Regions from separate parts of the Homo sapiens genome. Here all the other regions are linked to region 2. The links come from fine-mapping of genetic effects on gene expression. A gene starts in region 2. Each other region holds a variant in brackets. All regions are shown on one strand. Distances are between the middles of the regions. Region 1 overlaps PATL2 (PAT1 homolog 2). Region 2 holds the start of PATL2 (PAT1 homolog 2). Region 3 overlaps SPG11 (SPG11 vesicle trafficking associated, spatacsin). Region 4 overlaps PATL2 (PAT1 homolog 2).

Region 1 (2,749 bases), 44 kb before region 2:
ATTATACCTTATTATGCCATGTCTTATTTTTAGGCACATCATTTAGATTTTTGAAGAAAGGATATGAAAATGGGGAAGGGTTCTCCAATATATAAAGGCATAAGAAATGTCTTCAGACTCTCTGGATCCCTGTAAACATAGTCTATGTAGCTAGTGTCTGATGATTCAACTTCCCACATACACGTATTCCAGAACAAACAGATCAGTAAATCCAGGCAAACCTATAAAGAGAACAGATATTAACTGCAAGCACAATTCTACTTTGCAAGTATTTATATGATTTAATTAGTATCTGACTCTTTCTAGCAGTAATTCTGAGGACAGAGATGACCATGTTATTCATGCTTATATCCTAGAATAGTTGTCCCTCAAGTATTTCTTGAATGAATAATTCAGGTTCTTAAATTAATTCTTGCCCTCAAATAGGTTAGCACTATAAATGACCAAAGCACCTGGAATAAAAGGTTGGCTGAAGACTTAGTCAAGAATGGTTACTCAGTAAATGTCAGTGTGTAGAACCACTTCTAAAAACACATGATCCTTCATGCTCATAATTTAGAAGAAGGAAGTAGTGAAGCAAGTAACAGAACATAGATTGGGCTTGAACAAGGGGCTTTGACCTTGTTTCTGCCATTACTTACTCCATCCTGGCCTCCAGCTGCTGAACCAATTGTTTGTCCACGTGGTGACAGAACAGGGGAAGTAGGTTGCTGGGGAAAGCTAGGGGTTCTGCCAGAGAGGCTGTAGGCATTTGGGCTATCTCCCAGGCAATCAGAACCACCATGTCTGTCCTAGAGAGCATAAATATAAATATAAGCAAATAGATTTGCTTAAGAAACAGACTCAGGGCCAAGGTTTCTTATTATCTTTCCGTTACTACTACCATTGTCCCCCACCCCCAGGTAGCAATTCAGAGGTAACATTTGCATGTTTGGTACGTGCCAAGCAATGCTTAGTGCTTTACACATTTCCCTTCCTATTTAATCTTAAGAACTATGAGGGGTTAATACCATCATCCCTAGTTTGTAGATAAAGAAACAAACTAAGAGAAGTGAGAAGTGAAAGAACTTGCCCTAAAGTTATATTGCTAGTAAGTGATACAGCCAGAATTCAAACGTAGGTCTTTTTAAAATCTAAAGCTTGTCCCCTTAGGTACTATGTTATACTGCCTCCTAGAAGAAAC[C/T]GAAACTCTAGGGCACTATAGAAAAAAAGCAGAACAGCTACAACACTGCTACTACTTTCTCTATCCAACCTCTTCCTCAGTACTTGAAAATGCCTCAGGAAATACTTCACCTGGCTCAGTCTGCACATCCCGAGGGTACTAGATAGTATTTACAAGGCCTTTATGATCTTACCAAGCTGTATGGTCACTGTTGGGTTCCTCTAGGGAAGAATGCAGCGATACCAGTTGCTCCCCATGGCTCAGCAGGGCATAGAGCAAAGATATTCCAAACTGCAAGGGACATATATATATTCCAGAGCAAAATGAGTTCACACTCGGCATTTGGTGCTTTCCTGACTCTTATCTTCCCAACTAAAGGACAGGTTCACATTTAGAGATAGAGCTCAAAATATCCACAAGTGCTGTCAGGTTTTACACTGGTGAGCCAAAGAACTCTCTAACCCTTTCCATAGGAATCACTGCTCTGAACTTTTCCAAAAGACACTCTTGGAGAGCTGATTAAATGCATACTTCTAGGCTTAACTCCTAGGAGTAGGAGATCGGGAATGCATCCAGGAATCTGAGGCAGGTAGTCTGTGGACCCCACTTTAAGAGGCACTTCTTTAAGCAAAGACCTTCAGTATGGCATACATGAGATAACCCACTGGGATATTAGAAGAGAGCATCAAAATTTTCACATCTAGAGTCTCATTCTTTAAAATTTTCTGTCTTTTATTATATACCTATTGGCTGGGCGCAGTGGCTCATGCCTGTAATTCCAGCACTTTGGGAGGCCGAGGCAGGCGAATCACTTAAAGTTAGGAGTTCAAGACCAGCCTGGCCAACATGGTGAAACCATGTCTCTACTAAAAATACAAAAATTAGCTGGGTGTGTTGGCGAACACTTGTAATCCCAGCTACTTGGGAGGCTGAGGCAGGAGAATGGCGTGAACCCAGGAGGCAGAGCTTGCAGTGAGCCAAGATCGTGCCACTGTACTCCAGCCTGGGTGACAGAGCGAGACTATCTAAAAAATAAAAAAAGAAAATATTTATTATGTACCTATTATTACTAGTGTTACATGTATTTGATTTATAAACACATGGGTAGTGTGGTTTAGAATATTTTTTTACTGAAAGGGGTATACAAGAGTTTGGAGACCTGCTTTAGAGACTCACATCAGCAGCAATCAGGGAGCTTATTAGAAAAGCAGAGCAGGTGCATGGGCCCCACCCCAGACCTACTGAATGACTGAGTGGGACCAAGGAGCTGGGTTTAATAAGCTTCCAGGTGATCATGTGCTTACTAGAAATAGAGAAGCACTGCAGAGGATAAGATTTGTGTAGAGATGAGACTGTCCCCCAACTTACCCCTTATCAGTGATACCAACCTGAAAGCCATCTATGGAAAAAAGCCTCCTAGACATGTTACCTGATTCTGAAGCACCACGGTGACTGGCCGCTCTGAGGAGCCAGGTGGCAACAGCGTTAATCCCTGAAGTCCTTGGAGGAGTTCGTGGAGGGTCAAGTGACTAATACATTTGCCCAGAGGTTTGAATAACATTTGTAGGGCCTGCAAGAAGATCAGTA
Region 2 (2,703 bases):
AAATGGTAAGTCCAAGAAAAATACAGGTATTCCCCCCCAAAGAAAACTGTAAAATCGACTTTTTTCTATCTGTACTGTTTTTTATTGGTTTTTAAATTGGTTTTCCAAGTGAGTAAATCAGAATCTATCTGTAATGGATTTTAAATTTAGTGTTTCTCTGTGATGTAGTAAACAAGAAACTAGAGGCAAAAATAGCCCTGTCCCTTGCTAAACTTCTAAGGCACTTTTCTAGTACAACTCAACACTAACATTTCAGGCCTTTAGTGCCTTATATGAGTTTTTAAAAGGGGGAAAAGGGAGGGAGCAAGAGTGTCTTAACTCATACATTTAGGCATAACAATTATTCTCATATTTTAGTTATTGAGAGGGCTGGTAGAAAAACTAGGTAAATAATATTAATAATTATAGCGCTTATTAAACACTACAGAACACTTACTATGTACCAGGCATTGTGGGAGGCTCTCTCTTGTGCATTATCTCATTTCATTAGGTCCATGGAGAGTATTGCATTTTCTTAGTTTAGGCATGGCCTCCACAATAAAGATTATCAAAAGCCTAAAAATATGTAAAAGAAACCTAGAAGTTATTTGTTGTGCTCCTTGGGGAAGCTAGGCAAATCCTTTCAACTGAAAACCATGGTGACTTCCAAGATCTCTGCCCCTCCCCATCGCCATGGTCCACTTCCTCTTCTCACTGTTCCTCTTAGAAAAGATCTGTGGACTCCACCACCACGAAATGGCGGCACCTTATTTATGGTCACTTTAGAGGGTAGGTTTTCTTAATGGGTCTGCCTGTCATGTTTAACGTCCTTGGCTGGGTCCAAGGCAGATGCAGTCCAAACTCTCACTAAAATTGCCGAGCCCTTTGTCTTCCAGTGTCTAAAATATTAATGTCAATGGAATCAGGCCAGAGTTTGAATTCTAGTCTCTTAGCCTTTGTTTCCCCTGTCCATAAAATGAATGGGGGTAATTCTTTCCTCCTACAGTTTATTTATATATTCACTAATTCATTCATTCATCCATCCATTCGTTCATTCGGTTTACTGAGTACCTACTATGTGCCAGCCCCTGTTCTAGGGTGGAAACTAAGAGAATGATGTACCTAGAGGGCGCTGGAAGCTCTAAAGCCCTAGCAGTTACTGCTTTTACTATTAGTGGTCGTTTTTTTCTCCCCCCCGCCCCCCGACAAATCAACAGAACAAAGAAAATTACCTAAACAGCAAGGACATAGGGAGGAACTTCTTGGCACAGAACTTTCCAAACACTTTTTCCTGAAGGGATACAAGAAGCAAGAAAGGTACTCTTTCACTAGGACCTTCTCTGAGCTGTCCTCAGGATGCTTTTGGGACTATTTTTCTTACCCAGAGAATGGAGAAACCCTGCAGGGAATTCCCAAGCTGTAGTTATAAACAGAAGTTCTCCTTCTGCTAGGTAGCATTCAAAGATCTTAATCTTCTGGGTTTCCGTTTTCTCGAATGAAAAATGCAGGTCCGAGCAGTTAACTGGCTGGGGCACCATTAGCAAGTCACTTAGCATCTCTGGGGCCAGTCTGCAAAGCGAGGGGGCAGCCTTAATGTGCCTCCAGCCTGAAGTCCTAGAATGAGCGCCCGGTGTCCCAAGCTGGGGCGCGCACCCCAGATCGGAGGGCGCCGATGTACAGACAGCAAACTCACCCAGTCTAGTGCATGCCTTCTTAAACATCACGAGACTCTAAGAAAAGGAAACTGAAAACGGGAAAGTCCCTCTCTCTAACCTGGCACTGCGTCGCTGGCTTGGAGACAGGTGACGGTCCCTGCGGGCCTTGTCCTGATTGGCTGGGCACGCGTTTAATATAAGTGGAGGCGTCGCGCTGGCGGGCATTCCTGAAGCTGACAGCATTCGGGCCGAGATGTCTCGCTCCGTGGCCTTAGCTGTGCTCGCGCTACTCTCTCTTTCTGGCCTGGAGGCTATCCAGCGTGAGTCTCTCCTACCCTCCCGCTCTGGTCCTTCCTCTCCCGCTCTGCACCCTCTGTGGCCCTCGCTGTGCTCTCTCGCTCCGTGACTTCCCTTCTCCAAGTTCTCCTTGGTGGCCCGCCGTGGGGCTAGTCCAGGGCTGGATCTCGGGGAAGCGGCGGGGTGGCCTGGGAGTGGGGAAGGGGGTGCGCACCCGGGACGCGCGCTACTTGCCCCTTTCGGCGGGGAGCAGGGGAGACCTTTGGCCTACGGCGACGGGAGGGTCGGGACAAAGTTTAGGGCGTCGATAAGCGTCAGAGCGCCGAGGTTGGGGGAGGGTTTCTCTTCCGCTCTTTCGCGGGGCCTCTGGCTCCCCCAGCGCAGCTGGAGTGGGGGACGGGTAGGCTCGTCCCAAAGGCGCGGCGCTGAGGTTTGTGAACGCGTGGAGGGGCGCTTGGGGTCTGGGGGAGGCGTCGCCCGGGTAAGCCTGTCTGCTGCGGCTCTGCTTCCCTTAGACTGGAGAGCTGTGGACTTCGTCTAGGCGCCCGCTAAGTTCGCATGTCCTAGCACCTCTGGGTCTATGTGGGGCCACACCGTGGGGAGGAAACAGCACGCGACGTTTGTAGAATGCTTGGCTGTGATACAAAGCGGTTTCGAATAATTAACTTATTTGTTCCCATCACATGTCACTTTTAAAAAATTATAAGAACTACCCGTTATTGACATCTTTCTGTGTGCCAAGGACTTTATGTGCTTTGCGTCATTTAATTTT
Region 3 (2,500 bases), 110 kb before region 2:
GATGATCCTTTAAGTTCAGAAAGGCAATAGCCAATAACCCTATAGTTGTAAAGTCTTTAAATAACTGCAAAAGGAGCTTTTAAATTCATTCACAAAAGGTCATTATGCAATAAAATCCCTTTTAACATATTTATATGAGTCCTCTGTTCACCAAAGCCAACTCACTGTACCTTTCTCCAACAGGCAATTTTTTTTTTTTTTTTTTTTGGACACAGGGTCTTGCTGTTGCCCAGGCTGGAGTGCAGTGGCATGACCATAGCTCACTGCAGCCTTGACTTCCTTAACTCAAGCAATCCTCTTGCCTCAGCCTCCTGTAGCACTGTAGGCACACACAACTATGCCTGGCTAATTTTAACATTTTTCTTTCACCTTCTTGACCCTTATCTTCTATACCCGGCTAATTTTTTGTAGAGACAGTGTCTTGCTATGTTGTCCAAGCTGGTCTTGAATTCCTCGCCTCAAGCAATCCTTCCACCTCAGCTTCCTGAGTGTTAGGATTACAGGCATGAGCCACTGCACCTGGCCTCCAACAGGTAATTTTAGAACATTTTTCCCTCTACACTAATTACCCTCCTATAACCTCCATTTGTTATCACTTACTTTCTGATGTTGTATTCATAGAGCATGAATATCTTAGAAAGATGGCACCATCCTTCTATTAATAAGACCAGCAGAATAGCTCAGTTTAAAGTTCCTCTAAACCCAAGAAAATATCAAACAAAAATGTCTTTTTTTAGATAAATTTGAAGTCAGAAGATATTTTGATATGAGTCTAGTCATCTCTTGGTATCCATGGGGGATTGGTTCCTGAAACCCTTGGATACCAAAATCCACAGAAGGATGCTCAAGTCCCTGTAAAATAGCATAGTATTTATATATAGCCTATGCACATTTCCCCATACACTTTAGATTACTCTAGATCACTTATAATACCCAATAAATGTAAATGCCATGTAGATAGTTGTTATACTGTATTTTTAAATTGGTATTATTTTTAATTGTTCTATTGTTTTTCTTTTTTTTAAATTGTTTGTTTGTTCTTTTGAATATTTCCCATCTGAGGTTGGTTGAATCCTTGGATGTGGATCCCAAGGATATGGAGGGCTGACTCCAGTTAGAAAGAAATAGTCACTCCTGTCACGTACTATTCAATTGTCTCTTAACCACTTACTACCTATTTTTTAAAAAAGACAACACTGTGATCTGGTTCCAGAAACTAGTTCTGGAAAACAGTGTACCTGCTCTTGTTTTCAAAGTTCAAAGCTTATTTCTGAAATAAAGTTGTGTTTTCTCATGGAATTCCAAGGACTTTTCACATTGTGACCTGATTCCTAAAAAAAAAAAAAAGGCTTGAAGACCCTGGAGGTATCTGTCATCTTACAAAGGTCTTACCTGAAAGTACATTCCCTCTTTGAGATTAAAAAAACTGTCACATGCCCTATTTGTATTCTTGTGAGAACAGAGCGACTTTGACAACTTGTAATTACATATAAAGCCATTCATTAGATATTTGCTGAG[C/T]GTTTGTAAGGCACACAGTACTGAAATGAGCACATTTGAGTTTTTTATTCAAATAAGACCATAATTTTTTAGCACGTTGGGGCTTAGTGTGGAGACTGCGTATAAGAGAAAATTCATTCTAGAGGGAAATTTTACTCTGGCCTGGTGCAGAAGCCAAGTCACCACACAGTGTTCTTACATCCCTGTTCAGTGGTAAAACCATAAGAAAAAAGAAGTCAACATTCAAATTAAATACAGGTTTCCAATTTTATAAATATGTATTGGTTGGGTGCGGTGGCTCACGCCTGTAATCCCAGCACTTTGGGAGGCCGAGGTGGGTGGATCACGAGGTCAGGAGATCGAGACCATCCTGGCTAACACGGTGAAACCCCACCTCTACTAAAAATACAAAAAATTAGCCAGGCGTGGTGGTGGGTACCTGTAATCCTAGTTACTCGGGAGGCTGAGGCAGGAGAATGGCATGAACCCGGGAGGCACAACTTGCAGCGAGCCGAGATCGAGATCGTGCCACTGCACTCCAGCCTGGGCGGAACAAGACTCCATCTCCAAAAAAAAAAAAAAAAAAAAAAAAAAAAAGTATTACATTTTCATAACAGTTTCATTTACTTTGTGCTTTATTTCCTCAAGTATGTTTTAAACTTCTAAAAACAGCAGGGAACATGCTTTCAACTTCTCTGTGCCTCTACTCTACCTGGCAGAGTGCTCAATTTCCAAGAGTTAGAATGCCAGGTCAAGATGCCACCTAAGTGATGGAGTTGGAGCCATCACAAGAGGAGAGGGTATTTTGTCTACTCTCTAGTAACTTCACTGAGAAAGAGTATTTCTATTTGATAATGCAATAAGCACTACTTTTTTCAGCACTCAACAAATATTTACTGAACATCTACTGTAGGCTTGGCATGCATTGGACTCTGGGCACGAGGTAAATTCTATATATCAAAATTCGAACTTATAAAACACATACATTAAGAAATTCATTTTT
Region 4 (2,749 bases), 31 kb before region 2:
GGTAAACAGTGAATAAAGCAGATGCTTCCCACAGCCTGTTAGAGCTTCTTCTAGAATAAGAAGTACACACAGGTACACAGGATTGTTGGGTCAGATTTTAAAAAGACATTAGAGTGGCTCATACCTGTAATCCCAGCACTTTGGGAAGCTGAGGCAGGAGGATAGCTTGAGCCCATGAGTTCAAGACAAGCCTGGACAACATAGTGAGACCCCATCTCTATTAAAAATTTTTTCTTAAAGAAAAAAAATGACATTAGAAATATTTACATTTGCTACATAAAACACTCTTTTATGGGGAGATTTTTTATCCATTGTTTCAGGTTCTTTAATAGCAGTAGATCTAGTCTGGCTTTCAATTTCTTCTTGAGTTTTAAGTTATATATCTTCTAGGAATTTGTCCATTACTTATAAATTTTCAAATTTGTTGGCATAAAGTTGTTCATAGTATAAGTGTATTTAAAAATCCATGCTATAACTGTACTTTGTCTCTCCTGCCCCCTTTCATTTACTTGTTTATTTTGAGACAGAGTCTTGCCTGTCACTCAGGCTGGAGTGCATTGGCACGATCTCAACTCACTGCAACCTCCACCTCCTGTGTTCAAGCAATTCTCCTGCCTCAGCCTCCAGAGTAGCTGAGAATACAGGTGCACACCACCATGCCTGGCCAATTAATTTTTTTTTTTTTTTGAGACAGAGTCTTGCTCTGTCAGCCAGGCTGGAGTGCAGTGGCACCATCTCGGCTCACTGCAACCTCTGCCTCCTGGGATCAAGCAATTGTCCTGCCTCAGCCTCCTGAATAGCTGGGATTACAGGGGTGTGCCATGCCCGGCTAATTTTTGTATTTTTAGTATAGAAGGGGTTTCACCATGTTGGCCAGTCTGGTCTTGAACTCCTGACCTCAGCTAATCCACTTACCTCGGCCTCCCAAAGTGCTGGGATTACAGGCGTGAGCCACCGTGCCTGGCCAATTTTTTTTTTCTTTTTCTTTTTCTTTTTTTTTTTTTTTTTTTTAGTAGAGATAGGCTTTTGCCATGTTGGCCAGGCTGGTCTCAAACTCCTGGCTTCAAGTGATCCACCTGCCTCGGCCTCCAGAGTGCTAGGATTACAGGCGTGAGCCACTGCGTCCGGCCCTTTGTCTCCCTTTTTATTCCTAATATTATTCATCTCCTCCTTTGTTCTTCTTTCTAGAGTTTG[T/C]CTATTTTATTAGTCTTTTTAAAGAACCATGTATGTCAGGTTTCCTTCAGGAAATAGATGGTGTATTCAAACTGGATAATCTAATAAAGTTATATTTATAAAAGTATAGAAAGAGTATAGTGAAACCACAAGTAATAGCAGAATCCCCTGGGACTGGGACAAGAGGATGGAGCAGTCACCAGAACCTGGAGACAGAGAGGGCTGCCTGGCTTCAGATAATGTCAGCATCTGTGCTGTATGAGTTCCAGTGTGGCAGCCCTCTCCTAAATTACCCCAATTCCCTCTGGATCTGGGATCTGCTCCCTCCTCTTGCCCCTGAGGTCTGGGGGTGGGAAAGGCTCCCCACTCTTGCTAGTTCCAGGGTGCTTCACTGGCCTTTATGAGTTTCCCTTCACCCTGTTCACACCTTGGTGAATATTCTCTTCCTGACATGCTCCTCAGTTACACCACTTGAATGTGCCATCTGCTTCTTGTCGGGACCATGACTGACACTGCTCCATCACCAGCCTGCTGAGCTGTTCTTTAATTTGTCCTTGTTTAGCTGCCTTTCCCATACATCCCTCATCAGTGATTCTAAAAAATAGGCATTGTCCTCCTCCAGTCTTCCATACAACTCCCATCTCTACTCTCAGCAGTCAACCTCACCTCTTATGTTATGGGGAAAATAGAGGCCATTGGGGCTGATCCACTTCAATTCATACTTGGAGGAAATTATACACAGCCACAGGCCCCCCACCTTGCACTTCCAGGTGGGGGGCTCTCCTCCTCTTCAAGTCCAGACTCTCTTCCTGGATGCTTGGCCCTTCAGCCACTTTTCTCTGTGTCTTGAGCCTCTCTGTTTTCCCCTTTCTTTTTCTTAGTGTATAGGATAGAAATATCAGGATGTGTCCACTTCTTGGAGACAAATCCCTGTCTTGTTTTTGTTTCTTATTTTAACTGCCCTTCAGGTCTCTCCTACCTAACAAACCAAACTTCTCCATTTCCTCACATCATTCCTTCAACTGTTGCTTTCTGGCTTTTGACTCCATTATAGTGGTGGCAACAGGGACAAACAGACATAATCTCCATAAGCCCCTTCAACACTTTTTCTGGACAATTGACAATTATTTGACGTATTAGTTCTCTGCAAATGCAGGGTCAAGACAAGTCCCCTACCCTTACTTCCACCTAGATGCCACCTATATAATTCTCGGGCTTGAAAAAGTATATCTGGAGCTAACATTACTAGTTACTCCGCAGAGACTTTTCTCAATACCATTACCAGTGATTTTTCTTTCTTTCTTTTTAGTTTTAGAGATGGGGTCTCGCTCTTTCACCCAGACTGGAGTGCAGTGGCACGATTATAGCTCACTGCAAACTTGAACTTCTGGACTCCTGCCTCAACCTTCCAAGTAGCTGGGACTACGGCATACACCACCACACCCAGCTAATTTTTAAAATTTTTATAGAGATGGCGTCTCGCTTTTTTGCCCAGACTGGTCTCAAACTCCTGGGCTCAAGTCGTCCTCCCACCTTGGCCTCCCAAAGTGCTGGGATTACAGATGTGAGCCACTTC

The links. PIP is the estimated chance that this variant, and not a neighbour inherited with it, causes the effect.
Region 1: its variant is fine-mapped to the expression of PATL2 in whole blood (TOPMed, PIP above 0.99).
Region 3: its variant is fine-mapped to the expression of PATL2 in whole blood (INTERVAL, PIP above 0.99).
Region 4: its variant is fine-mapped to the expression of PATL2 in whole blood (TOPMed, PIP 0.94).

Annotation. Positions count from the first base shown.
Region 1 is chr15:44,665,751-44,668,499 of GRCh38, forward strand. PATL2 (PAT1 homolog 2) reads right to left here. Exons shown (of 18, transcript NM_001387263.1): 15 at 2,592-2,732; 16 at 1,356-1,453; 17 at 642-791; 18 at 1-221. The coding sequence ends at 203. Among named protein-coding and RNA genes, the nearest start is that of SPG11, 3.5 kb to the left of the region's middle. RefSeq lists an enhancer at 1,239-1,338. The variant C/T (reference allele first, on the strand shown) is at 1,184.
Region 2 is chr15:44,709,660-44,712,362 of GRCh38, forward strand. PATL2 (PAT1 homolog 2) reads right to left here and starts at 1,664. Exons shown (of 18, transcript NM_001387263.1): 1 at 1,361-1,664; 2 at 1,212-1,270; 3 at 437-555. B2M (beta-2-microglobulin) reads left to right here and starts at 1,858. Exons shown (of 4, transcript NM_004048.4): 1 at 1,858-1,954. The coding sequence starts at 1,888. RefSeq lists an enhancer at 1,679-2,341.
Region 3 is chr15:44,602,867-44,605,366 of GRCh38, forward strand. The region is part of intron 20 of SPG11 (SPG11 vesicle trafficking associated, spatacsin); the gene reads right to left. Among named protein-coding and RNA genes, the nearest start is that of SPG11, 60 kb to the right of the region's middle. The variant C/T (reference allele first, on the strand shown) is at 1,519.
Region 4 is chr15:44,678,562-44,681,310 of GRCh38, forward strand. The region is part of intron 3 of PATL2 (PAT1 homolog 2); the gene reads right to left. Among named protein-coding and RNA genes, the nearest start is that of SPG11, 16 kb to the left of the region's middle. The variant T/C (reference allele first, on the strand shown) is at 1,195.